4 linked regions of the Homo sapiens genome follow. The protein of the gene in region 1 purifies or fractionates together with the protein of each later gene. This does not show direct contact. Each region holds a gene or a part of one and is shown on either strand. Other genes may lie near its edges. The genes, in order: HBM, SCGB2A1, DMBT1 and LTF.

Evidence for each region.
Region 2: the proteins of HBM (region 1) and SCGB2A1 purify together in Homo sapiens (affinity purification with mass spectrometry; 2 studies listed by BioGRID and IntAct, with this or other methods). This does not show direct contact.
Region 3: the proteins of HBM (region 1) and DMBT1 purify together in Homo sapiens (affinity purification with mass spectrometry; 2 studies listed by BioGRID and IntAct, with this or other methods). This does not show direct contact.
Region 4: the proteins of HBM (region 1) and LTF purify together in Homo sapiens (affinity purification with mass spectrometry; 2 studies listed by BioGRID and IntAct, with this or other methods). This does not show direct contact.

What each region holds. Positions count from the first base shown.
Region 1 is NC_000016.10:161,072-167,271, forward strand, and holds HBM (hemoglobin subunit mu), read left to right. Parts: upstream 1-4,906; 5' UTR 4,907-4,926; coding exon 4,927-5,018; intron 5,019-5,196; coding exon 5,197-5,401; intron 5,402-5,508; coding exon 5,509-5,637; 3' UTR 5,638-5,693; downstream 5,694-6,200.
Region 2 is NC_000011.10:62,203,768-62,211,680, forward strand, and holds the start of SCGB2A1 (mammaglobin-B precursor), read left to right. Parts: upstream 1-4,905; 5' UTR 4,906-4,964; coding exon 4,965-5,019; intron 5,020-6,645; coding exon 6,646-6,833; intron 6,834-7,913. UniProt on the Homo sapiens protein: May bind androgens and other steroids, may also bind estramustine, a chemotherapeutic agent used for prostate cancer. May be under transcriptional regulation of steroid hormones.
Region 3 is NC_000010.11:122,556,437-122,563,770, forward strand, and holds the start of DMBT1 (scavenger receptor cysteine-rich domain-containing protein DMBT1 isoform e precursor), read left to right. Parts: upstream 1-4,317; 5' UTR 4,318-4,334; coding exon 4,335-4,395; intron 4,396-7,334.
Region 4 is NC_000003.12:46,447,889-46,454,912, reverse strand, and holds part of LTF (lactotransferrin isoform 1 preproprotein), read left to right. Parts: intron 1-552; coding exon 553-608; intron 609-4,239; coding exon 4,240-4,418; intron 4,419-4,884; coding exon 4,885-5,059; intron 5,060-5,895; coding exon 5,896-6,050; intron 6,051-7,024. UniProt on the Homo sapiens protein: Transferrins are iron binding transport proteins which can bind two Fe(3+) ions in association with the binding of an anion, usually bicarbonate. Lactoferricin binds to the bacterial surface and is crucial for the bactericidal functions.

The sequences.
Region 1 (6,200 bases):
CAAGCCAGGCTGATTTACCGTTGCTAACATCCTATCGCACGCATCCCTCTGCCTCATGCACCCAACCCCAAGGCCTGGTACACTGCAGGCCCCAAGGTCCTGTGCGTCCTTTCAATACCCTCCTCACCTGCCTCACCTGCCCCCCCTACCCTGACTCTGGCTGGAGACCCCCTCCAGGGAGTTTTCAAAACAAAGGGTGTCAGTCTCCTGTGGGATTCCCTCACCTCTGCAGCCTGCGGTCTGAAAGCTGCCCCATGGTGTGTAGTGCTAAACTTCCAACTTACTCCAGGCCAGCGGTGACAGCCCGAGGGCAGGAAGGGCACCCACACTGAGCCTCAAACAGCTAATTTTGCAACTGTAAGTCCATATAATTGTCTTGAAAAGTAATTTGTTTCAAAAAGCTAAAAAACGAATACTCTTGAGTCTCCTTCTAGTAATTCCCCTTCTAGAGGTCTATCACCAGGAAAAGATCCAAAGCACTGATATTCTTCATGGAGTTGTTTATAATAGAAAAAAACTAGAGCTTGTTCACAAAGGGGAGCTCTGCAGGCTGAAGATGTTGCACCTGTCAGCGGGGATGGGGGCACGCTTGCTGACGCAGCAACGGAAAAGCATCAGTGTGTGAAGATGCATTTTCTCTCTTTCTATTATTATTATTTTTATTTTTATTTTTTCTGAGGCAGAACCTCGCTCTGTCACCCAGGCTGGAGTGCAGTGATGCGACCTCATCACAACCACGAGCCACCATGTGCGGCCCCATGAGCAAGCCACCACGCCCAGCCTTTTTTTCCCTTGTTTTAAAAAATCCTCTATTTAAAAAAGATGTGCATGGGCCGGGCACGGTGGTTCACGCTCATAATCCCAGCTCTTTCAGAGGCCGAGGCAGGCAGATCACCTGAGGTCAAGAGTTCGACACCAGCCTGGCCAACATGGTGAAATTCCATCTGTACTAAAAATACAAAAATTAGCCAGGCCGTGGTGGTGTGTGCCTGTAATCCCAGCTACTCAGGAGACTGAAGCAGGAGAATCACTTGAACCCAGGAGGCAGAGGTTGCAGTGGGTCAAAATCATGCCACCACACTCCAGTCTGGGAGACAGAGCAAGACTCCATCTCAGAAACAAACTAACAAACAAAATTTTTATATCTACCTATAATTCGTATAAATTTAAAATACATGCATAAAATCATACCCTTTGCAAGCACACGTACTAACTAAAAGGAATATATTCAGCACATAGAAATGGTTGTCTAACGGAGGAGGGGGGAGTTAATAAACAGAGAGGATAAAAAGAAATAAATCAGTAGAGCTGGAGGAGGGTCTCCTCCAGGCTGCGATGAGAACATAGTGAGCAGAATTGCAGGCCTGCATGACCTCACCTTCTGTGAGGAGTCCGGCCTCCCAAGACGCTTTCCTGCCTAGGTGCCCGGCTCAGAGTGTCCCCTACAAGGCTACTGGAGGAGAACCCCAGACCGAGCCTCATTCAGGTGAGGGGGCTGCACACCGGAGGTGGGAGAGGTCTGTCCCTTCCCACCCTGTGACACTGGGTCCCACTTTCTCTCTAGGGGGTCTCGGTTTCCTCATTTGCAAACTGGAGCTCATAAGGTGGGCCAGAGAAGTTTCAGTGAAGTGAGGAATGGATCGTCCCTCTGCCAGGGCCCATGTGCTCTAGGTCACCCTGTCATCACAGGGACAGGGAGGTCAAGGACAGTCACTCCTGAGGCCAGTCCGGGCTGGGCTGACCACGTGGACTCTCATGCCCAGATTGGGGCCCCAATCTCCCTGAAGCTGGGGCTCCAGCTGTGACTCAGGGGTGGGCAGAAGGGGAGACAGAAGCGATAGGTTCCTCAGCCCCCAGTCCCACCTGAGGGCCCCTTTGTCACTGGATCTGATAAGAAACACCACCCCTGCAGCCCCCTCCCCTCACCTGACCAATGGCCACAGCCTGGCTGGGCCCAGCTCCCTGTATATAAGGGGACCCTGGGGGCTGAGCACTACCAAGGCCAGTCCTGAGCAGGCCCAACTCCAGTGCAGCCGCCCACCCTGCCGCCATGTCTCTGACCAAGACTTAGGGGACCATCATTGTGTCCATGTGGGCCAAGATCTCCACGCAGGCCGACACCATCGGCACCGAGACTCTGGAGAGGTGAGTGTCAGATGGGACTGCCAGAGGGACTGGGTGGGAGGCCAGGTATGTGAGTGGGGACAGTGGGGAGCGGGCAGTGGGGAGGGGACCGTGGGGAGGGGACAGTGAGTAGGAGACAGTGGGGAGAGGACAGTGGAGAGGGGACAGTGAGGAGGGGACCATGGGAAGGGGACCGTGGAGTGGGGACAGTGAGGAGGGGACCATAGGGAGGGGACAGTGGGGAGGGGACAGTGAGGAGGGGACCGTGGGGAGGGGACAGTGAGGAGGGGACCGTGGGGAGGAGACAGTGAGGAGGGGACCGTAGGGAGGGGACAGTGAGGAGGGGACCGTGGGGAGGGGACAGTGAGGAGGGGACCGTGGGGAGGGGACAGTGAGGAGGGGACCGTGGGAAGGAGACAGTGAGGAGGGGACCTTGGGGAGGGGACAGTGAGGAGGGGACCATGGGGAGGGGACAGTGAGGAGGGGACAATGGAGAGGGGACAGTGAGGAGGGGACTGTGGGGAGAGGACAGTGAGGAGGGGACCATGGGGAGGGCACAGTGGGGAGGGGAGAGTGAGGAAGGGACAGTGAGGAGGGGACTGTGGGGAGGGGACAGTGGAGACAGATAGCCTTCCCTCTCAGTGAGGAGGGCAGGGTAAGGAGGGAACGATTAGGAGTTGCACAACCATCTGGGCTCGCTGAGACCTGGGCAGGCACAGGCCCAGGTTCTGACAAGCAGAGGGTGAAAGGTTTCGTTCTAGGCCTGAAGGGCCTTACAGGGCAGCCAGGGCACTACAGCCTCTAAAGTCCCAGCATCTGGGATCAGGGCACTGTCCCAGCTTCAAATTCCCAGCATCTGATCCCCTGGGAGGGGCCAGGGAGCTTTTCCTTCCCTGGAACGCTGCTGGGAGGTCATGAGCCTGCAGAAGGGGTGGCGGGCAACCCAGTCTGGGGCTGGGAGGGAGGTCCTGTGGCCAGAGGAGACGGTGGAGGGGCTGGGGGCACCAGGCGTGCTGGAGGCGGAGGGCGGGAGATTTGGGGACCAGGCTGCACAGAACCCGTCGGAAGCAGGGCGATCAGCCGGGAGCTGCAGAGGCCTGGGGGGCCTCTAGCCCAGGGCAGCCTGGGAGGGGCAGCTGCCTGGGCACCCGGGCCCCGCGAGGAGGGGCTGGGGCCTGCTGCGGGGTCGCAGATGTGTCCCGGTGCTCGGAGAGGGCCGCAGGGCGCGTGGGCCGTGGCGGGAGGCCGCGCTGCTGGGAGCTCACGGCCCCCGCCCCCCGTCCCAGGCTCTTCCTCAGCCACCCGCAGACCAAGACCTACTTCCCGCACTTCGACCTGCACCCGGGGTCCGCGCAGTTGCGCGCGCACGGCTCCAAGGTGGTGGCCGCCGTGGGCGACGCGGTGAAGAGCATCGACGACATCGGCGGCGCCCTGTCCAAGCTGAGCGAGCTGCACGCCTACATCCTGCGCGTGGACCCGGTCAACTTCAAGGTGCGCGGGGCGCGGTGCGGGCGGGGCGGGGCGGGGCCGCGGGGCGGGCGGGGCCGCGGGGCGGGGTCGCGGGGCGGGGCGGGGTGGGGTCGCGGGGCGGGGCGGGGTCGCGGGGCGGGGCGGGGCGGGGCGGGGCGGGCGGGGCGGCCGGGGCCCGGCGGGGCGGGGCGGGGCGGGGAGGGGCTGGGCGGGGCGGGGCGCGGGGCGGGGCGGGCCGGGCCGGGGCGGGGTCGCGGGGCGGGGTCGCGGGGCGGGGCGCGGGGCGGGGCGGGGCGGGGTGGGGTCGCGGGGCGGGGCCCGGGCTAGGCCCCGCCCCCGCACTGAGCCGCCCCCGCCCCCAGCTCCTGTCCCACTGCCTGCTGGTCACCCTGGCCGCGCGCTTCCCCGCCGACTTCACGGCCGAGGCCCACGCCGCCTGGGCCAAGTTCCTATCGGTCGTATCCTCTGTCCTGACCGAGAAGTACCGCTGAGCGCCGCCTCCGGGACCCCCAGGACAGGCTGCGGCCCCTCCCCTGCCCTTCACCCTCCCACAGTTCCTGCCCTGACTCCAATAAATGGATGAGGACGGAGCGATCTGGGCTCTGTGTTCTCAGTATTGGAGGGAAGGAGGGGAGAAGCTGAGTGATGGGTCCGGGGGCTTCGCAGGAACTCGGTCGTCCCCACTGTCGTCGCGGCCTGGGGTTCACTTGGGGGGCGCCTTGGGGAGGTTCTAGCCCCTGAGCACCGGAGCTGCGGCCCGGGTGGAGCGGAGCAGTCCCGGGCCGGCCCGCGGCGTCTCCTGGGGTCCTTGAGTCGGACGGGCGTTTGTGCGTCTCCCGGCTTCCCATATCGCACAAAGATTGTCACTTCACTAAGCGTATTGGAAGCGTGTCGGGGCTCAGGGAACTTTTCCACAAAGCCTGACGTCCGAATCCCGGGACTCTGGCAGCTACGGGGGTCCCTGAGGCCGGTCCCTCCCCGACTCCTAAGAGAGTAGGGGGTTTCCTGCCCGGTGTTCTCTCTCCGGTTCCTCCCATGTGCTCCCTCCTGGCAGAGCAGTAACTTTACCCGAGGGGAGTAAACAGATGCCCCTAAAGTCTGCAGTAAAGGTGCCCACGCGCAACGGCGTGGGTCAATGCCAGAAACCCTGGGATCCCGGAGGTCGAGGCCTCCACACAGACGGGAACCCGGGCTGGTTACGTTCCCCGGCGCAGGCCGAGGGTCCCCGCGTTCCCGCCGCGCTCGGGCCGATAAGGACGGGCGGGGTGCCCGGAGGCTCTATAAGGAGGCCAGGGCGGCGGGCGCGGCCCCCAGAGCACGTCAGGCGGCGCCATGCTCAGCGCCCAGGAGCGCGCCCAAATCGCGCAGGTCTGGGACCTGATTGCGGGCCACGAGGCGCAATTCGGGGCGGAGCTGCTGCTCAGGTCGGTAGAGGCGGGGTCTCCGGGAGCTCAGGGAGGTGGAGATGAGGGTTTTGGGCGCGTGGGCCGCCAACGCCATCCAAGGTCCTTCGGGTGCGGATCCCCGGGCTCTGGGCGGTGTGGGCGCTAGTGAAGCCCCACGCAGCCGCCCTCCTCCCCGGTCACTGACCTGGTCCTGCAGGCTCTTCACGGTGTACCCCAGCACCAAGGTCTACTTCCCGCACCTGAGCGCCTGCCAGGACGCGACGCAGCTGCTGAGCCACGGGCAGCGCATGCTGGCGGCTGTGGGCGCGGCGGTGCAGCACGTGGACAACCTGCGCGCCGCGCTGAGCCCGCTGGCGGACCTGCACGCGCTCGTGCTGCGCGTGGACCCAGCCAACTTTCCGGTGAGGCCTTTCCGGCCGGGGCAATGGTGCAGCGCGCAGCCGGGGTGGGGGGGCTCTGGGGGTCCCTAGCGGGGCAGACCCCGTCTCACCGGCCCCTTCTCCTGCAGCTGCTAATCCAGTGTTTCCACGTCGTGCTGGCCTCCCACCTGCAGGACGAGTTCACCGTGCAAATGCAAGCGGCGTGGGACAAGTTCCTGACTGGTGTGGCCGTGGTGCTGACCGAAAAATACCGCTGAGCCCTGTGCTGCGCAGGCCTTGGTCTGTGCCTGTCAATAAACAGAGGCCCGAACCATCTGCCCCTGCCTGTGTGGTCTTTGGGGAGCTAGCAAAGCGAGGTCACTATTGTTGGCCAGTGAAGCTCAGGGACCTAAAAGGAGCCTCCTAGAACTCTCAAATGCGCCCCACCCCCGGAGGTTTGTCCTCCCATGGCGAGGAGTGCGATGGGGCAGAGGGAGCACTGTGATGTGGCGGGGGTAGGGAGGGTGGCCTTCGACTTCAACCCTTGAATCGGGCTTCCAACCATACTGTTCGCAAAGCACTTCCCCATTCACGCATTTATTCATTCATTCTCCCTCCATCCCCACTTCCTGCTGGGACCTGTAGATGCTAATCCTGGCCCTTTTTGCAGAGAGATGCAGAAACTGAGGTCCCAGAGCCAAATGTGCAACCTAATTCGTTGGCCCAGAGCAGAGGGCTCCGCAGACCTGTTCCTTTCCCCTTCCTTCCCCCATGGACACTTCCTCAGTGGCAAACCTGCGCTAGCCTGGTTAGCCCTCCCTGTGACCCTGCAGCCCTGGGG
Region 2 (7,913 bases), on another chromosome or scaffold:
AGATCTTAAATGTTCTTATCACAAAAAAAACAAGTGTGTGAGATGATGGTGTGTTAATTAGCTTGAATTAATCATTTCAGAATGCATATATACATCAAAACATATAAACCATAAATAAATATAATTTTTATTTGTCAATTTACCTTAGTAAAGCTGGGTAAAAAATTAAAAAATGTATGTAAACATGTTCAATAAATTGGAACTGGTTTCTGGGAAGATTAATATGGTAATACTAAGTAGAAGATGCTTGGGTGATAAGTTATTTGTAAATTATTTCAATAAAACTCTGAGGCTAGTCGTGGTAGTTCATGCCTATAATCCCAGCACTTTGGGAGGCCAAGGTGGGCGGATCACTTGACCCCAGGAGTTCGAGACCAGCCTGAGCAACATGGCGAAACTCTGTCTCTACCAAAAATACAAAAATATAGCTGGGCGTGGTGGTGTGCGCCTGTAATCTCGGCTACTGGAAAGGCTGAGGCAGGAGGATCGCTTGAACTCAGGAGGCAGAGGGTGCAGTGAGCCAAGATGGCACCACTGCACTCCAGCTGGGGCGACAGAGCAAGACCCTGTTCCAAAAAAAAAAAAAAATCATAAAACCAAAAAACCTCTGAGGAAAGGGGAACGCTGAAAAAAAATCAAATACACATGGATCAAAACACAGAACTTTGTTTTCAAACTTAAAAGTTTTAGCTTATATCTGAATAGTTACTCAAATATTTTAGAGAATATTATGTGGAAGCCGAGTTTCAGTAGTGTCGAACAGTCCTAGTGGTCCTTGGAGTTTACCATAAATACATTTTTTTATTATTCAAAAATAATGGCTACCAGCTGACATCTGGATAGCACCTGCTTTGTGCCAAGCACTGTTCTCAGGACTTTCCACTTTTTACTTGTGAATCACAGCAATTCTATGACTGTTCCCATTTTAAAGGGAACACACAGCATTAAGTCTCCTGTCCAATGTGGCAGTCAGCAAACGGAGGAGCTGTGATGTGAACACAAGTGGTGGTCAGGCTCCGAGTCCTCACTCACCACCCACCTGCCATCCAACCCTTACGAGAAAGGGCTGCAGAACCTGCAGAGATGGGACCCAGCAGTGCAACACAGCGGCGCTCAGCAGAGCTGCAGCTTCTCAGGCCCTCCCTTCCCAGATCCTTCCTGGGAGTCTTGGGAATGTCCAGCTGGGATGGGACTGCCCCATGGAATAAGGGATTTTATCCTTTCCTTACTTTTCAATCATCTGACTCCTCTGGGAGTCACCTCCGGCATCTTCTGAATTTATCCATCTTTAACCTACCTCTCCCTACCCACAGCCTCCCCTCAACCTCTGAGCCAGAGGACGTTTCTCCCACTTAAGGGAAAGCACCCTTTCCCTCCTTTGGCCTTCCAGAGCCCTTCATCCATCTCTCTCTGCACCTCTCCTTTCCCGTCCGGGCTTATAGTCTCCTGTGTGTGTCTCCCCAGGCCTCTCAGAGGTACAGAGGGTCACAGGTCTCTTCTGACAATTGAGTGAGTATGAAAAACGCACCACCGTCACGTGCATCTTGGGTGTGTGTGTAAGGGGAAGGGGGTTCTTCCTTGGTTGCTGTAGACTCCCCATGGAAGCTACAGCCTCTCCTTTCCTCAGCCCCATTTCAGAAAGGAGAGGCCAGAAAGCGTTTCTGATGCTTGTGGTCTCTTTAGAGGATTCACCCTGTTCCCTTCACTCAATCCCAACCCCGTGTCACCAGATGTATTCACCCCTACGCAGGGGGAGGTCAGTCTTTGCAAGCTTCTGACACATTTTGGGACACTGAGCTGGAATATGGGGGTGCTGGGGTGGATTGAACACTGAGCAACTCAGACTTGGAATCCCAGCATGAGGCTCGGGCGCGAGGGAGGCGCTGGGTCTAGACGAGGCCTTGGTGACTTGAACAACAGGCATATTGCTGCCAACAAAGATGGCTCCAAGACCAGAGGCCTTTCCTGAAGTTCTGTTCTGTGTAAGAAGGTGACTGACAAGGCAGGGCCACAAGGACTGGGGCACCAGGCAGAGCCCCAATAAGTACTGGCCAAGGAGACACTCTCACATTTCATAATCAAGGTCCTTCACTACCCTTGGGAAACAAGGCCACCAGCCAGGGTCAGCTGTGTACAGTGGTAAGTAAACAACACTTCTCCTTTCTGTCCTCCCCAAAATTAGGTTTGTTCTTGGCCACTGAGGCTCCACCTGAATGGTGGAAAGAAACATGTCGCAAGTAATCCAGAGAGAAAACAATGCATTCACAGGGAATTAACAATGGATTCATTCCTCTGGCTGTTTCATCGACTTCTTTTTTTTTCTTTTTTCTTTTTTTACCTGAGCCAACTTTGTTTTTCTTGTTCCTATGACCTTCACTGTGCCCCTAATTAAACAGGGATGGGCTTTCTATCATGTGAGGCTGTCCCGTCCTTTTCCTGATTCTATGTGGCCACGTTCCTTCCCTTCCTTACCTTGCCAGTGCCATCTGTCCTCAAGCTTCTGTACTTGCAGTTCCCTCTCCCTGGAATTCTCTTCCCCAGATGTGTCCTTGGACATCACCATCCACTCATCCAAGTCTCAGCTGAAACAGCACCTGCTCCTACAGGCTGCCTTGGGGGGCTTACAGGCCACTGCCCCTGGGCAGGCCATCTATGACAGCATTCAGCTGTTGTGAATATTTTGTTGTTCTTTGCAGCAATGACCACTTTCTCATACCTCTGATATATCTTTAGTCTTGTTCTTTGTGTCCTTCATTAGAAAATAAGGTCCACAGGAGCAAGCACCTGGTCTAACCTGTTTCTATAACTGAATCTAGTGCAAGGCCCAGCTCACAGGAGAAGCAAAACAGTGATGCGTACAACAAGGGATCCACGCATGAATGCAACTGCCATTTATTCAGAATTATCTCATGCTTGGCTGCGTGATTAAAAATTTACAGAGCGTCGGCCGGGAGCGGTGGCTCAAACCTATAATCCCAGCACTTTGGGAGGCCAAGGTGGGTGGATCACGAGGTCAGGAGTTTGAGACCAGCCTGGCCAACATGGTGAAACCCCCATCTCTACTAAAAATACAAAATAAATAAATAAATAAATAAATAAATAAATAAATAAATAAATAAAAATTAGCTGGGCGTGGTGGTGCACACCTGTAATCCCAGCTACTCAGGAGACTGAGGCAGGATAATCGCTTGAACCCGGGAAGGCTGAGGTTGCAGTGAGTTGAGATCACGCCACTGCACTCCAGCCTGGGCAATAAGAGTGAGACTCCATCTCAAAAAAAAAAATTTACAGAGTATCTCTCATCTTTACAAAAATTCACGGCCAGGCGGGCACGGTGGCTCACACCTGTAATCTCAGCACTTTGGGAGGCCGAGGTGGGTGGATCACCTGAGGTCAGGAGTTCGAGACCAGCCTGGCCAACATGGAGAAACTCCGTCTCTACTAAAAATACGAAAATTAGCCGGGCCTCGTGCCACATGCCTGTAATCCCAGCTACTCAGAAGGTTGAGGCAGGAGAATCGCTTGAACTCGGGAGGCGGAGGTTGCAGTGAGCCAAGATCGTGCCACTGAACTCCAGCCTGGGCAACAGGGCAAGACTCTGTCTCGAAAAAAAAAAAAATTCAGCATCACTTATACCCGTTTCACAAAGACAGAAAGGAAGCCCAGAGGGACCAGCATTGTAATTTGCCCAAAGACACAGCATGAGTACGTGTGGCCTCCAGGATCCACACCCACACCTGCCCAAATCTTATCACCTAAATCTCATCATCACCCAACCCCATTGCCACCCACTGCCTAGCACTGCCTGCCCAAGCAGTCAGTTACTCCACTCACTCACAGCATCCTCTCAGTCAGTGGATAGAAAACCGTAAAAGGCTAACAAAGAACTAAGCACAAATTAAATTATAAATATATTGTAAAATAAATTTGTAAAGTTGAATTAACTTAGTGTTGTAATTCTTAACAAGAATAACAAGAAGCTTTCAGTAGAGGTTAGATATTAATGTTTTCCCCAAAACTTAAAGCACTTTTCGGGGCTGGGCATGGTGGCTCACGCCTGTAATCCCAGCACTTTGGGAGGCTGAGTGAGGTGGATCTCCTGAGGTCAGAAGTTCGAGACCAGCCTGGCCAAAATGGTGAAACCCTGTCTCTACTAAAAATACAAAAATTAGCCAGGTGTCCTGGCGCATGCCTGTAATCCCAGCTACCCAGGAGGCTGAGGCAGGAGAATTTCTGGAACCCGGGAGGCGGAGGCTGCAGTGAGCCAAGATCGCACCACTGCACTCCAGCCTGGGCAATAGAGTGAGACTCTGTCTCAAAACAACAACAACAACAGCAACAAAACCCCAAAAAACAAAAACAAAAAAACCCGCTTTTCTGAAAAAGAAATGTCTATGGATTAGGAAGGTCTGCCTCCCATAGGAAGATGCAGGTATTGCACATAGCCCAAATATTTGATGATTCCAGGACCGGCAGATACACAAGTTATGAAACTGTTTGTACCTTGAAGAATAACGAGAAGAGGAGGAGACCAAGAGGAATAGAAGAAAAAGAATAGAAGGAGGAGGAGGAAGAAGGGAAGGAGGACTAGAAGAAAACTACAATAATAACAACATTGTTGAGACCACAAGATCACGCCACTGGGTTTTGCTTTATATTTTGGAAAACACTGTCACATCCATTTTACTAAAAGCCATGTATCATTATTGTAGTCCCCAGATTGTCAGGGATCCAAATATTACTGCCTTCTTGGTTTCTACAAACAGAGCACAGGCTGGCTGTGTTCCCATTGGTGTACACTATTGTGTCCTGGTCCCATGCCAGGTTGACACATTGCCTCATTCCTGGGAGGGACTAAGGTGCCTCCCTGGGGAATAAATAGAGCAGGGCTGGGTACTCACCTCCACAGCAACTTCCTTGATCCCTGCCACGCACGACTGAACACAGACAGCAGCCGCCTCGCCATGAAGCTGCTGATGGTCCTCATGCTGGCGGCCCTCCTCCTGCACTGCTATGCAGGTGAGTTCTGGGCAGAGAGGGCTGCTTCTGGGCTAGGAATTGTCACCTGGGCCCCTGTAGAAGAACTCCCAACCTCTAATCCCCAGCACAGACGAGCCCCAGTGTGAAGGGCCTGGGTGCGATAGGCCTTAGGATCCCCATGAGTTCCTGACAATCAAGCATGCAGTGTCCTCATGGGCTGTCCCCTGCATTGGAGCTGCACACAGTGTATCATGGCACTCAGCGTCTCACCATGGTCACGGTGACCATAGAAACCAGGATGAGTCTCAGGATTAAATATTGAAATGAACTATTTCAGTGGGGCAAGGGAGAGATGGCATCTACACCTAGAAATCAGGAAATAATCATGGGTCTCCTTGAATATGGAACGAAATAGGAAACCTCCCAGGACAGAAGGCCCAGGCTGCAGAGTGTGACCCAGTGTCTCTCACCCTGTGTGGCTCACTCTGTGTTCTCAGAGTTGATCTGGGTCCTTCTGGGATGCCCTTACCCTCCCAGTTGCTTCAGGCTCAAGGCAGACAGGTGAGAACTCACAACCCCTGGAGTCTCCTTCCAGCACTAAAGATTCAGTGGGAGGAAAAAGCCCCGGCTGCTGGAATCAGCGCTAATATTTCCATAGGTAGCCTGCCTTGTGCAGTTCACAAAGGTGGATTCCAAACCCTACCGTATTGGCATCCAAGGTAGGTGCAGATGTGTAGAAGGGTGACAAGCTCACAGTCAACTAACTGGAAAATCACAAAGTCCAGAGCACAACCAGCTCACATGAAGCCACGTCCTGAGCTCGTTCCTCTCCCTTACAGTGGGAGGTGACCTCAGATCCCCTCATGAACAAGCTCTATTTCACATTCATGTGTGTGTGTGTGTGTGTGTGTGTGTGTGTGTGTGTGTGTGTTTGAGACAGGGTCTTGCTCTGTCACCCAGGCTGGGACTGGGACTGGTGTGCAATGGCACAGTCTCAGCTCACTGCAACCTCTTCCTCGAAGGCTCAAGTAATGCTCCTGCCTCAGCCTCCCGAGTAGCTGGGACTACAGGTGGACACCACTATGCCTGGCTAATTTTTAAATTTTTTGTAGAGATGAGGTCTCCCTGTGTTGTCCAGGCTGGTCTTAAACTCCTGAGCTCAAGCAATTCGCCTGCCTTGGCCTCCCTAAGTGCTGGGATTACAGGCGTGAGCCACCATACCTGGCCACACATTCCCTTTTATTGCAGTAGAGTCAACAGAACTAATGGACAATGTCCTAGACCCATTCATCTGAAATCCTTGGAAACCCTACCTGATGCTGGGCATGATAACAGGGAAGCATTGCATGACTTTGAACCAAGAAAGTCCAAGTAGTGTTTGCTATGTCCCCCCAGTCAGAACACCTCATTTCTCGAGGGTCCTCTTCACCAAGAATACACAGGGTTGGGCTTCTCTGGGTTTGGAAGGTCAGAGAGAATTTGCAGAGCCTGAGTTTACACTCCCAGAATTGAGAACTCTGCATACTGCACCAAAATCTTTCTGAACCTCGGTCTGTCCCTGGAGGTACGAAGATAGCCAGCTTCCCAATTCATCTGTAGAATGAATCACACCTCTAGTAATGGCCCATGTTCTTGTGTCTTTTTTTTTTTTTTTTTTTTTTCCAGATTCTGGCTGCAAACTCCTGGAGGACATGGTTGAAAAGACCATCAATTCCGACATATCTATACCTGAATACAAAGAGCTTCTTCAAGAGTTCATAGACAGTGATGCCGCTGCAGAGGCTATGGGGAAATTCAAGCAGTGTTTCCTCAACCAGTCACATAGAACTCTGAAAAACTTTGGACTGATGATGGTAATTTGGGTTTCTTCTTATGTACCCTTTGAAAATCACTGATCAGAACCAGCGGGCTCTAAATTTGGCACCAAGAATGCCAAGCAACTGGTGAACAAACTTTCTTTATATATCAATTCATTAAACTTTGTCTCCAGGCTGCTTTGCCACTTCACATTGAGAATCTTTAGGGAGTGATAAATGGAAAAGGCAAAAAGGAGAAAAGAAAGCCTTAGAGATCACCCGTCTACCTCTGACCTCACCAGTCCCTTCTCACACAGACACAGACACACATAAGCACACAAGTATAGACACACACAGACACACGGGGACAGGCATCGGCATTTTTTTTTTTTTTTTTGAGACGGAGTTTCGCTCTGTCACTCAGGCTGGAGTGTAGTGGCGTGAATCTCGGCTCACTGCAACCTCCACCTCCCGGGTTCAAGAGATTTGCCTGCCTCCACCTCCCGAGTAGTTGGGATTACAGGTGTGCGCCACCACGCCGGGCTAATTTTTGTATTTTAACTAGAGAAGGAGTTTCACCATGTTGGCCAGGCTGGTCTCAAACTCCTAACCTCAAGTGATCTGCCTCCCTTGGCCTCCCAGAGTTCTGAGATTACAGGTCTGAGCCCCCGCACCCAGCCAGAACATGCACATTTTTATCAAGAGAAAATATCTGGTTCTCAAGAGATCACACACTTGTAGGAGCAATCTACTAAGAAATTTCCTACTTTCACAAAAACAAATATTCAAAACATTCTTATTTTTTTTTATCTAGCTCAGAAAATACAATTTGTGCAAATTCTGCATTTTCTAAAATAAAGAAAAAAATTTTTTTGAGATGGAGTTTCACTCTGTTGCCCAGGCTGGAGTGCAGTGGCATGATCTTCGTTCACTGCAACCTCTGCCTCCTGGGATCAAGCAATTCTTGTGCCTCAGACTCTCAGGTAGCTGGGACTACAGGCATGTACCACCATGCCCAGCTAATTTTTGTATTTTTAGTAGAGATGAGATTTTACCATGTTGGCCAGGCTGGTCTTGAACTCCTGACCTCAGGTGATCTGCCCGCCTCGGCCTCCCAAAGTGCTGGGATTACAGGTG
Region 3 (7,334 bases), on another chromosome or scaffold:
AGGGGAAGGAGTGAGTCTCCAGACATTTGGGGAAAAAGTCTTCAGGCACAGGGAGCAGCAAGTGCAAAGGCCCTGGGGCTGGATGATGGTTACAGGGGGCAAGGGGGAGAGAGAGGCAGGGGTATCTTGTGCAGGGCCTTATAAACCATGGGAGGGCTTTGAGCCTTACTCTGAGCAAGATGGGAGGCATGCAATGGGATTTCTGTGTGTCAGGGGTCCCTAGAGGGCTGTGTTTGTTGCTGGAAGATTCCGCGGTTGGATGGCATCCTGATGAACGTGGAGCTCATCTGTCCTTCAGATGGGGGGCAGCAGCTGCCGTGAGTGCTGTCCTGGACATGGTCTCAGCTCTGTGTGTCATTTCCCTTCTCTGGACCTCATCGTCCCCAGCTGGAGGCTGAGTGGTGGAGGAGAACTGGCTCGTCACCAGCCCCCGTTTAACCACAAGACTTCTTTCTGGGGACCCCTGGACAGCATGGGTGAGCCACTCACAATCCCCACCTTCAAAGCCATTGCCTGCTGAGCACCTGCTCTGCTGGGGCACTGGGATCACAGAGGGGCAGCAGGAGACAACGGGTCTCAGCTTGATCCTCAAAGCCCAGCAAGGAGGTGTGGGGCAGTGGGGGGTGGGGGGAGTGAGTGAAGGAGGGTAGGAAGGGGTCCCCTTATAACCCGATTGGGAAGACCGGCTCTCTGAGCAACAAAAATGAGCGACATTATAAATATCAGACATACAATGTCAAAAGATTGTTACAACGGTAACGATGACCAGCAATTATGGTGTGCTACTCAATGAGGGTAAAATTAGAGTTTGGGGTCAGACTGACACCTGAAGGGGAGCCCTGGTCACACAGATTACAGGATTCAGGGACTGGAAGGCAAACAGCAGCAGCCGGAAAGTGCTACAGCCCCGACCCTTCCCACCAGGCTCCCCGTCCTTCTGTCCCCCTCGTCTGTCTGTCAGGTCACAGGGCTCCTGGTTCAGAAATCAGAGACCCCTCAGAGGTGGGAGGTGGGAGGGGCCCTGGGCTGCCTCCCTGATCTCCGTCTTCCTCTGGCTTCCCAGGGCACTGGTCTGTGGGTAGAAAGAATCTTTAGAAGAAGGAGAACAACGGGCTGTTTTGGGAAGTCTGCCTGGGACCCCAGCTCAGCTTCGTGGCAGGGATGTGTGCCTGGCAGCCCCAGGGGCCCTGCTGGGCCTCTCAGTGCCCTGTCTTATGAAGGGAGGTCTTGGCTTCCCACAGGTAATCCTCAGCTCTGACGGCAGGTGGCCCTAGGGGAGGGGCCTGGAAGGGGACTCCCTCACCACACTCGGGAGCATTCCACTGGCCTGTTTTATGTTTTGGGGCTTCCCCATGAATTCCAATTTAGGAAAGGATTCTGTAGCTTTAAAAAAAAAAGCCATACATGGCCGGGCGCGGTGACTCATGCCTGTAATCTCAGAACTTTGAGAGGCCGAGGCAGGCAGATCGCAAGGTCAAGAGATCGACACCATCCTGGCCAACATGGTGAAACCCTGTCTCTACTAAAAATACAAAAGTTAGCTGGGTGTGGTGATGCACGCCTGTAGTTCCAGCTACTCGGGAGGCTGAGGCAGGAGAATCGCTTGAACTTGGGAGGCGGAGGTTGTAGTGAGCCGAGATTGCACCACTGCACTCCAGCCTGGGCGACAGAACAAGACTCCGTCTTAAAATAAATAAGTAAATAAATAAATAAATGGCCACATATGATCCAGGGGGCTCTTCCCCATAATGACCAGTCCTCTGGTGCTGGGATTTAGGGGCTTGGTCCCACCTCCTGGAGTGTGCTGTGGGGGTGCCGCTGGCTTAATTGCCTGGGGAAGGTGCTTTGCAAATGGGGCCCGGGCGCCGAGTCTCTGAGCTTTAATGGGCTTATCTTGCTTCCTGTTGTTCTTCATGGCAGTTCTGGGGTGAATAAAATGGAACTTTGTGGTTGTGGTCTTCCAACCCCTGCTGTTTAAGCAGATGCTTCTAACCAGTAGGAAGGGGAAGATGAGGGTCCTCTGGCAGGGGCTGCTGCTGGAGGAGGTTGTCCCCCTGAACCCTTCTCTTAGTCCAAGGAAAGACCTCCCTAAATGGTGTCTTATGAGCCACAAAATGGCCTTGGGACAAGATGAGGCACCTGACGGTGAAGGCTGAGGTCCCACACGGTGTTGGCAGGTGGCCCTCAAGCCCATTGTCTTCTGCCCGCATGCCCAGGACCGCCACATCCTTCCTGTTCCACTGACGTCACCCATTTCCCACCTGGGATGCCTACCTGGGCTGGCTTTGAAATGACAGCTAGGCTTCACCACTTCCTTCTTCCTGGTGTCTCCTGAACAAAAAGCTCACAAACCTTATTTTCTCAGGATCTTTTCTGCTAACCACCATGGGCAAAAGATGCAGTCAAAACAACAAAAACGGGGAGGTTACGCAGTTCAGAAAATCCCACACATTCTCAAGAAGGGTGTCCCCGCCAAGCTGAGAGATACCTGGGACATCATGCTTTCCTGGAGGGGAAGGCTCCCTGCCCCCATTCCTGTACAGCCGGGAGAGTCGCTCCTGTTCGTCATCCCATCTTCTCGCTCTCATTTGCTGGGCTGACCTCTGCTGGTATTTCAAGACTGTTTGGTGCCACCCTCTCTGAGAGATGGCCTCCCTCATCTGATTTAGATGCTTTTCTTTACCTTCTCATAGCAGCTTGTACTAATACTTGCTACCCCCTGTTGAAATTGTCACCAGGCAGGTCTGTCTCTAAGACCAGACAGTCTGCTTTTGTCTTGGAAGGACACTTATTACCCCTTCCTGTTCACAGGTATTTAGTATTCTTACCATCATCTTTCCCTGCTGTGCTCCCGGCAGACAATTCTAATCTGTCATGACACTCTGATGATCCCAGACCCAGCTGCATTATCATTCTCAGTCCAACACTCCAGGAACCAAGGGATCACAATCCACTTCTAAGAGGAATCCAGCATGTGCCTGGTCTTGGGCATTCCCTGGTAGGTGAGTAAACCTGTTCTCTCGTCACCCAGTGCTTATCAGTTGCTGATCTGGCAGTAGGAGGATGAAACACAGTGAGCCTATTCTGTGTTCCTGTTCTACTCAAGGGGTGAAGAGGCACCTGGAAACAACAGGAAGAGTTGTAGGATTAAAAAGGACATCCAAGATTAAATGTAACTTTCATCTGGATGAAGCCAAAGGCAGACTTCCAGCCCTAAATTCTGACTGGTGGCTGACACAGGACATGGGTTCATGGTACCCTTCTAGAATGCAGCATAGACTACTGATGAACAGTGCATGGCAAAGAAGCCAAGTGTCATTTCATGGCCTCAGCCTCTCAGCTGAGAAGCAGGGCACAGCTCACCCAGGCTAGGAAAACAGAGGCAAGTCCTGGAAAGCTGTCTGCTTTTAACCAAGAGTTACTGGCCATCAAGTGTCTTGGTTAAAAAATAAGTGTCAGGCAACCTTCTTGGTAGAGTGTGTTGGGGGGCATTATCAGAGTCTGGTAATGACTTCTGAGGGTCCCAAAGAGTGAAGTGATATTTACATAGCAAATCCAAGGAGGGGGATTGTGTGCAATATAGGTGGAGGTGGGGGCAGGTTTTGTGGGTTTGCCAAGCTCCAAGGGTCATACAATGTGCATGTCAAGGACAAGAAATCAAAGCCATGTGAAATGGTTGGAGGTGGTTCAGTTTGAGGTCATGTGTTTCTCAGCTCCTGTTGTGGAATTAGTGTGAGACCCAGAAGACTGTGGCCAAAGCTATTATGGACCCATGGTCTCCGTGGAATCATCCCTCATGACTTCTGCTCTCTGATCACATCCACACTCATGTCATCCTCGTTCTTCCAAGGTGAGGTTACTAGTACTGCACAGGGGCTGATGAGAGCATGTCCTGCCAGGAAAAACCATCCCAGAGATGCTTTCCCCCTTGGCACTGTGTCCTGTATTTGCTCAGCAGCCCACATCCTGTTCTTCCCCAAACCTTGGGGCAGACTTCCCACAGGTGAATTTGAACTCCCCAAGATTAAAATCAAGCCCGTATTCAGGAAACACTTGGGAGTCCTTGAGGTTCACCGAGAGGGAAGTTGGAAATTTTTCACTTATGTCAGTGCGTTTGCAGTTGGGCAACAGCCAGATTGTTCATATGGCAATCAATCAAACACACCTAAGTTTTTTCCACATATTAGCCATCGACTGTTAGCAAAAGCCCTCACTTCCTTTATATTGATTTATAGCAGCAGTAGAAATATACCACCCTAGAGGACACACCTCCTTTTAGCTAGGTACCTATAAATGTCCAGGATTTTCTATTCAATTGAGAAGAACCCAGCAAAATGGGGATCTCCACAGTCATCCTTGAAATGTGTCTTTTATGGGGACAAGTTCTATCTACAGGTATTACGTTTAATTATTATATTCATTAATTTCTCTCCTGCAGACCCAATCATGGCAAATTATATCTACTACTTTCCATTACAAGGGAAGTTTTATATCAAAGAGTGGGTAGCACTTTGCTGATAATTGTAATTGTTTGCAGGTATTCAGGAGGAATGGCTCTTTTTTGTTTTATTTCTGGCTGAGAAATATAAATGGTTGTAGTTAGAAAAAGCCAGTCATTAAGTCAATGTTTTCAGTAAGTCATTCAACTAAAGGAATGATTGATTTGTCTTAGAAAAATCCCTGAAGTTTAGGAAAGGTGGATGTGTATTATTAAGAGGCCCTTAAACTTTGCAACAATTGGTTAAACACACAATTTGTGTGCTATGAAAACGGGCAGAAAGGATTCCCACTGCAAATGCCCTTTATGTGGCTTCTTTCTACAGGTGTGTCTGGCTTGATGGCTAATATTTGCCGAGCAAAATCAGGTCAAGTAATTGAGCGCAGACAAGATCATTAAGATTCCAAGTTTGTCTTGGAATTCCAAGTTTCTCTGTCATGCACAGCTTTAAACAAACACTTGAAGCCCAGTCACTCAAGCATAGCTGTATGTTCTTAGAGAGTCAGATGATAAACGTGAGAGAGCCGTCGGTAGCGCACTCTGATTGCTGCATCTCAATGGCATTTTGCAGAGATACTAGAGGAACAAGTGATTCTCAGTTTGCCTATTTTGTCTCTCTCTTCCTGTCTCTCTGCCTCTCTCTCTCTCTCTTTCTCTCTTATCTATTGTGTAGTTATTATCATCTTTTCTCTCCCCTCTCTCTCCCTCTGTTTCTGTCTGTCTGTCTGTGTTTCTCTCTCTCTCTGTATCTTTCTCTTTTTCCCATCTTTTGGGCAGATATCACCTTTTCTTCCTCCTCCTCCCTCTGTTTCTGCCTCTGCCTTTCTCTCCCTGCCCCCCTCACTGTATCTTCCTGTCTTTCTCATCTATCAGGCAGTTATTACCTTTCCTCCCTCCCTCCTCCTCCTTCTCTGTTTCTCTCTCCATCTCTCTTTCTCTTTATTGGGCAGCTATTATCACCTTTCTCTCTGTCTCTGTCTCTCTTTCTCTTCAACTATTGGGCAACTATTATCACCTTTCCTCTCTCTCTCTATCTGTTTCTCTTCATCTGTCAGGCAGCTATTATCACCTTCCCTCCCCCTCTCTTTTTCTCTCTCACTCTTTCTCATCATCTATTGGGCAGCTCTTATCACTTTTCCTCCCTATTTCTCTCTCTCTCTCTCCCTTTGTTTCTATCTTCTTTCTACCTTCCTTCCATCCCTTTTTCTTTCTCTCCCTCTCTTTATTCATTTCTTTCTTCCTTCTTCTCTTTTATCTTTCCTACTGCCTTTTTTTTCTTTTATGTCATCTTTTGCTAGATTTATGAATTTCAGGATACAGGGTAAAAATCACCTAATTTTCAGGTAACTTCTGGAACTGTCACTCTCCCCCTAGGCTCAGTGGGGGAAGCTTTGAAGATTAAGGTTCATCTGGTTGGTTGCTTTCATGAAAGCAGCACCCCCAAACCCAGCCCTCCCACCCAGGTGGTAGGGAGCAGGCCCACCCCCTGTGATGAGTGTGTGGAGGGACTGGGGGCCACCAGGCCCAGGACCTCAGGGGAGTGGAGACTGGGCATCCTCATCCTGCCTCCATCAGAAGCATCTGAAACTGGGAGGCTGCGTCCTCAGCCCCAGCTCTTGTCAGTACCGAGTTCACCCTCCAGATTGTCTCTGAACCATGACATGGAATTCACATCAGCCACTGTAGACAGGGAGTGAATTGCCTCGTCTTTATCTACAAAGAAACAACAGGCAGCAGTGCTCTTGGATTGAGGACATTTGTAGTTTGCCCATGATGTTATGTGCATGCATATGGACAGACATGCACACATGTGCATGCATGCCTGTGTTTGCCATTCAGAGGTGGGAATTCATGCTCTCTGAAGTGGACCTGTATTCTCTTATTTAAATCTTCTAACATTGCTGAAGTTAGGAACAATTATTTCCACATTTCAGATGGGGAAACTGAGGCTCAGAAAGGTTATTGGCTTGTCCAAAGACAGCACTGGTGAGTGGCTGGGTTAGGGCTTGAATCTGGATCAAATTCACTAGCATTCAGATGACAGCTCTGGCCCACTGGCCCTTGCTGCTCCTTGCAGGGAACTGAGGTGATGAACTGAACTGTGGCATCTAACTCAGTGCTTGGAGCCTGACCACAGAGCTTTGCGCTGGAAGTACCGAGGTGGCAGGCACCTGTCAGCTCTGGTCTTCATGCAAACTCTTGAGAAAAACTCAGTATGCCCAGGTTTGTGCTGGGCAGGAAAGGCTGTGGTACCCACTGCTAGCCCCAGCAATGCCCCTCCTCTGCCACTTGCCTGCTGTGGATCCTCTGTGACCCTCAGTTTACTCATTTATAAATGGAGGTTATGTTCCAACCCATGCAGTATCTGGCACATAGACAGAGCCTCAGAACCATTTAGTGTTACTACTCTAGACATTTTCCTCATGTTTTATCCAAAAGCAGCTTCCTAAAAGTAATGTGAGCTCTTGGATTGGATCCTGCAACAGAAAATGAAAAACTGGTGAAATCCAGATAAAGCCTGGAGTAAACTTAGTAGGAAGGTACCAGTGTTTGTTAGCATGAGAATCACTTGAACTCAGGAGGCAGAGGTTGCCGTGAGCCGAGATTGTGCCACTGCACTCCAGCCTGGGTGACAGAGTGAGACTCTGTCTCAAAAAAAAAAATTAATAAATCATTTTCCAGAAGTGATTCTTCTCCCTTCAGGCAATTTACCACCATTCCCACAATGGCAGCTGGAGTAACCTACAGCTATGTGGTTGATTCTTGGAAGACTACAGATTGGTCTCAGTATGTGCAGAAGGGTCTATTCAAAATGTGTGGACACAGCAGAACCAGG
Region 4 (7,024 bases), on another chromosome or scaffold:
GGTTGGGCAGGACCGCTGCAGTGTCCAGGCTGATGTCCTTCTGCCCACCTGGGCCTCTCCCCGTGGCTGAAGGACAGTGAGCAATGCCTGATTCGCCCCCATCCTCTCTGCCCCCACGCGGAGGCTGAGCTCCCCCTTTTCCCATTCTGTCTGCTGGCACTAGCGTATTTTTGCAGAGGGAGGCCTCCACACTTCCCCACTGGCCAGGGCACACCTGCACACTCAGTCCTGAGGAAAACAGCCACATGAACAGTGATGCTAAGGCTTTACCCTCTTGGGTAGAGGCTTCAAAACTCTCCTTTATATAGAAAAAAGTTTTGTCCTCTTAGCCCTCAAAGCAGAAGATGGGGGCCTCTGGCTAGCACCTGAGTCATTCTTCAGTATCTACCTGGAGGGGGCCCCTACCTTCCCAGCTGGGATGCCCCAAAGCTTCAGAGCCCTGCCCTGCAGGGAGTAGAAACCCATAGATGCTGAGTGCCAGGGCTACTGTTCCACAGGGAGGGGCTGGGGAGGGCTGCCTGTGCTTACCCCTGATGGTTTCTCTTTTCACAGGTGTCTGAGAGACGGGGCTGGAGACGTGGCTTTTATCAGAGAGAGCACAGTGTTTGGTAAGAGCAGGGTAATGAGCCGTGGGTACTGACCCCTTTTATCTTACTTGATCATGACTCTGACCTTTGAGCTAATTAGATTCCTAAGTTCATGGCAGACCATTTTCAAGATTCCTACAGGGCACAGCTCTGATTTTATGATCTTTCATATTTTAAATGATCAGTTTTCTTCAAACCTCCTGTGCCTACTGCCTTTCTCTTCCCCTCATAGACACCCATGCCTAGGTGCTTGGCAATGCGTCCTCCAGTCCTCCAAGACACATGTGCTCATGCAGAACAGATTGTGCTGGTTTGTGTTTCCGGTTTCTGGGTTCATAGAGGTTTTAGTGAGCATTAGAAATCCTGCTACTTGGGTTTTCTGCTCAGCATTTTGTTTTAGAGGTTTATCGGTATTGTTGTATACATGTCTAGCTCAGGGGTCCTAACAGTTGAGGAGTGTTCCGTGGAATACATCCACCTTTTACTTCTCTGTCACCATAGTGATGGACAGAGGTTGTGCTCTCTTTTCCTCTACCACATGCAGCCACACGACTGATACCTTCACCTGTGTTCCTTACTTACGTGCTGGACAGCGTCCCTCCTGGACTTATAATAAAGCAGTTGATGAGTATGTAGAGGCTAAACACACTGCACCCAGGACTAGTGGACATAAGCTCACTACATTTCATGCAAGACCAATAGAGACAGGGCTACTATATTCCACCCAGGGCCACTAGAGAAAGTGACAGACACCCACATTCACTCAGGACCATCAGAGACACACCCCACATCCACCCAGGACCACCAGAGAAAGAGACAACACCCACATTCACCTAGGACCATCAGAGACAGACCCCGCATTCATCAGAGGCCACCAGAAACAGACCTCCACATGCACCCAGGGCCACCAGAGACAGACCCCACATGCACCCAGGATCACCAAGCTGCTGTCTGGAATGACACTCTGCAAGTGTTCTAATTTCCCCACAACTTCAGTTAGAAGTATTTTTGACTTTCATACTTTTTGTCCGAATGATGGTTGTAATGCAATAGATAGTTCGTTTTATTTTTAATTTTCATTTCTCTGACAGCTGGTGAGTTTGATCATTTCAACATATTTGCTAGCCGTTTGGGCTTCCCTTTCTTATTTTGTGACATTTGACTACTTTTTAAATTGAGTTTCACACCTTGTTTCTGCATGATTTTGATTCAAGGACAGAAGTTCCTTCTATCTAGGTATCAAACTATTGCTGATTTTAAACTTTAGTAAAACCTCTTCTCAGTCAAAAATCTGACAACGGTAGTCTCTGTTGATCAAAAATCCTTGATATTGATAAGGTCAAATCCACAAGCCTCACCTTGTTGGTTTGTAGTTTTGAGATATTTCAAAGATGCCCTTCTTCACACCCAAATCATAATTATTTCCTAAAATAAGATTTGAAGATCCCCTTCCTCATCTATTTATATGTGCTCTACCTAGAAAGTCAGATATAGATTTGGCTTTAGCATTTTATCCCCTTTACAGTGAGGCAATTTACCTTACAATAAAAAAAGTATATTTTTTCTGCCATATGTGAAGCCAATTCTACACCAAGTTTGTATATATCCAAGTGGACCAGTTTCTGAGCTATTTTATTTCATTGGTGTATTTGCATTTTTTCTGCTTTTGTTACTGTGGCTTACCAATGGGTCTTACTATCTGGTGGAGAGAAAGAGAGAGAGCCAGTGAGAGGAAGAGAGAGAGAATGAGAGAGAGCTCCCTCTCCCCTCTCACTTTATTATTCCTTTTCAAATATACTCAGCTAAAACTTCAGAATTATTTTGTTGAATTTCTGGAAAAAATCATACTTTAATTTTGATTCGAATTGTACTGAATTTAAATTGTTCCATGAAAAATCAGCATATTTATAACATTAAGTTGTCCAGTCCATGGTGATGCTAAATCTCCCCCATTTGATCACACCTCTTTTTAGTTTCTTTGATAGAACTAAAATTTTTCCTTTGTGGGTCTGATGTGTCTTTGTGGGAGGCTAATTATTAGCTACTTAATGGTTTTAGTTGCTATTGTAACATCTTATAGTCCATATTGGTTTCTATTTGGTTATTGTTAATGAGGATAACATCTGATTTTTGTAGGTTGCTCTTATAACTTGTTACTCCTCTGAGTAGTTTTATTAGTTTCTGTTGGTTTCATTGGTTTTTTGTAGATGACGATATCATCTTTTTAAATAAGAGTGTGTCTTTTTCCTTCCAGTGTTTATATCTCACATTTCTTTTGTAAATTGTGTGATCTGGATATCTAGAATTGTGCTGGCATTGTAACAGTGGGCATCCTTGCCTTGTTCCTGATTTTGCGGTGAATGTCTACATTTTCTTCTTTTAGTAAGGTTTTTGCTGTAGATTAATGGCATTTATCAAGCCAATAACTTATGGCCAGGCGTGGTGTCTCACCCCTGTAATCCCAGCACTTTGGGAGACTGAGGCGGGTGGATCACATGAGGTCAGGAGTTCGAGACCAGCCTGGCCAACATGGTGAAACCCCATCTCTATTAAAAATACAAAAATTAGCTGGGCCTGGTGGCGTGCGCTTGTGGTCCCAGCTACTTGGGAGGCTGAGGCAAGAGAATCTCTTGACTCCAGGAGATGGAGGATGCAGTGAGCTGAGATCGCACCACTGCATTCCAGGCTGGGCAACAGAGTGAGACTCCGTCTCAAAACAAACAAAAAAACTTTACCGATTCTATCTATTACTATTTTTCTGAGGCTGAAAAAAAAACCACACACAAATAGATGTTGAACACATAAACAATCGTTCTGCATCTATTAAGATGAAGACGATCTCATGGTTTTCTGCCATTAAATGCAGATTACTTTAGTTTTTTTGATGTTCAGCCATTCTTTTGTTAATGGAATACACTGGTAAACCTTCATTCCAATCTATTAGCTTTTTAAATACTCTGTGAGATTGAGTTAGTTAGTACGTTATTTACAAATTTTGCATTTATGTTCGTAAGTAAAATAAACTTTTAATTCTTCCCTCCTATACTTTTTCTGATTTTGACATCAAGGTTGTACTAATCTCATAAAATGACTCGGGCAAGATTTTTTTCACTTTACACATTCTGAAGCAACTTATATATGATATTCCACATTTGCCTGAACTCATTCATAAAACCATTCTTCCCCTTCTTTTGATATACTCAGTGTTGGAAAGTGTCTCACCTTCCTGCCTTATTCCCTGCCTTGTTAACATTTTTGTCATTTTTATTCTTCCCAGAGATGTGAGTAAGGGAGCAACCCTTGGTGGCCCCCTGAGCTTGTCTCTGCAAAGTGACTTTTCCAGGCAGAGATGCCGCAGAAACAGACGGGTCTGGTTTGGCCTCTCTGGCCTGCCAGGCAGCAGCTGCACGGGAACCCCAGGGTGGCCTAAGTGATTTAGGATGAGGATCACACCTCGGCTGCCCCCTGAGGCTTTTGGGGCACTACCTTTACCTTTCTGAGTGTTCTGGAGCAAACCCCTGCCTTTCTGACCCTCAGTTTTGTCAGCTATCTCCCCAAGCTCAAAATTCTATAGGGAGAAGGGGAACTATAGCTCGAGGTTACTGCTGGAGTCGGCTTATCTAGACTCCCTCCCACCTCACCTTCCCTGCAGAGGACCTGTCAGACGAGGCTGAAAGGGACGAGTATGAGTTACTCTGCCCAGACAACACTCGGAAGCCAGTGGACAAGTTCAAAGACTGCCATCTGGCCCGGGTCCCTTCTCATGCCGTTGTGGCACGAAGTGTGAATGGCAAGGAGGATGCCATCTGGAATCTTCTCCGCCAGGCACAGGTATCTTCACCCACGGTCCTCCCCACTTGCTTGGATATGGGGGGCAGGGAGCAAGGTTTCTTACTTCCCTGACTTCTGCCACTCCAGAAGTCCTGTAGCTTTGCTGCAGGATAGCACACTAATGCATTGGGCTGCTTGCCCAGGCTGTACTGTGGACAGCAGAAGCAATGAAACTCTTCTGTCACACGGGCTGACAGCGTCTTATGATGGGAGCAGAAGCAGGGGGTGGTCGATGCAATCTTCTCAGGGCCCTAAGGTGCTTGGACCTCAGCAACTCTTCAAAGAATGAGCCATAGCTGAGCTTGGGTCTCCGAGATGGCACAAGTCCCTCTGCAGGAGGGTCTCAACCGAGGCTCCTGCTCTCAGTTAGAATGATCCCAAAGCTCCAGATACTCTTTTTTAACATCATTTTTTTGTTTCCTCCCTATTTACCATTGACACCATAATTCTATTTTTTCTTAATTAGGAAAAGTTTGGAAAGGACAAGTCACCGAAATTCCAGCTCTTTGGCTCCCCTAGTGGGCAGAAAGATCTGCTGTTCAAGGACTCTGCCATTGGGTTTTCGAGGGTGCCCCCGAGGATAGATTCTGGGCTGTACCTTGGCTCCGGCTACTTCACTGCCATCCAGAACTTGAGGAAAAGTGAGTGAGCCCAGGAGGGTCCTGAGGTCCGCCTGGTGTGGTCTTCTACTTCCCAGCAGGTGGCCCTACTTTGTGGCGGTCACTCCTTTTCCCAGACACTGTGGGGTCATCGTGGAGGTTTGATGCAGGTGTGAGTGTCTTCTGTGGATTAGGTCAGGTGTCTCTAAAAGAATAGTCTGGCCACCTGATCAGTGCACGTCAGGCTCCCCAGGCCTGGCAGAAAAATCAGTTTGCCTCCTATTAAGTGAGAAACATGAACATGAACAAAGATAGCCAGGACCCCTCCTGGATGAATCCGGGGGCCTGGATTTACCCACACTTCCCAGGCCCAGACCTTGAACTTAGTTGGGGACACCATGGTGGGGGAACTCAGCTATGGCTCCTTCTCTACTGGGGGGCTGGGGGTGGGAGTCTGGGGGAACCCAGAGGCTGCACCGTAGTTATTGGTGGTGATTGCAGGCGTTAGGGGAAGTCAGGGTTGGGCTCAAGGTCCCCTAGGCCATCTCTTGGGACTGTCACTGGTCTCTGGGTCATGGAGCGTTTATCCTCAGAGACAGAGACAATAGGCGCCTCCTGACTCTAAAGATTAATGGATAGATTAGAAGCCAGGGAACTTCTCCAAAGGAACAGAAGTGGGAAACACAGGGAGCTCTGTGGACCTGAAGAAGGGGCTTGGAGCTGAGAAGTGGAGGAGGAGAGGGTATGGGTCCACATGTCCACACATGTACTGTAGCTCCTGTTCCAGGGAGAGTCTGGGCAGGACCCTGGCTCTGGGGAGGTTGGACAACCTGGCAAAGCTCAGGTTGCCCAGCCACCTGCGGTCTTCCCTCTGGCAGGTGAGGAGGAAGTGGCTGCCCGGCGTGCGCGGGTCGTGTGGTGTGCGGTGGGCGAGCAGGAGCTGCGCAAGTGTAACCAGTGGAGTGGCTTGAGCGAAGGCAGCGTGACCTGCTCCTCGGCCTCCACCACAGAGGACTGCATCGCCCTGGTGCTGGTAGGGAGCTCCATCACAGGGGCGGGCGGTGGGCCCGGTGGAAGACCTAGGGCCTGGGCATCTGCTTAAAGTGAAGTCAACAGTCAAAGAGGCCACGGGGGCCTGGGTGAGGCAGGGATGCCTGGAGAGGTGTGCTCAGGGCCAGAAAGCATTTTAGTTTCAAAAAGCAGTTTACTGTGGGTTTCCCACTCCTCTGGTTATAAGAACAACTCAGGATTATTATAAGGAATTTGGAAAATATGGAAAGGTATTATGTTAAAACAAAACAACAACAAACCCCCCAAACCACCTGTGATCTCACACAGAGGGACAGACATGGTTAAAGTCTGGCTAATTCTCCATTCCAGTATTTCTCTGCACATCTGCAGATATGCATGCAACAATAATGAAGTGTTGCAGTATGTCGTTTTTAAGCCCTTTTCACTAAACAGCGTATAATGGGCATTCTTCCACATGAATATTTACTCTTGGAAAGCATTAATTTTTTTTTTTTTAAGAGACAGATTCTTGATCTGTCACCCAGGCTGGAGTGCAGTGGTGCGACCACATCTCACTGCAGCCTGGAACTCTTGGGCTCAAGTGATCCTCCCATCTCAGCTTCCCAAGTAGCTGGGGCTACAGGCATACGCCACCACACCTGCATAATTATTATTATTATTATTGTAGCGACAGGGTCTCGCTTTGTTGCCCAGGCTCGTCTCGAACTCCTGGGCTCAAGCAATCTTCCTGCTTCGGCCTCCCAAAGTGCTGGGATTACGGGTGTGAGCCACAGCACTCGGACGAAAACATTTTTTAAACATGCTTCCAGGATATCTTTTATGTGAATATGGCTCAGTTTAGTCATGCCCCCATTCCTCTTTGTCCCTTACTTTGCTATTATCAATAACCCTGTGGTGAGCATTCTTGAGTAGAAATCTTTGTCCACTTCTCTATTTTTAATATAGTTGTAAAAATATTACTGGGTCAAAGAGGAA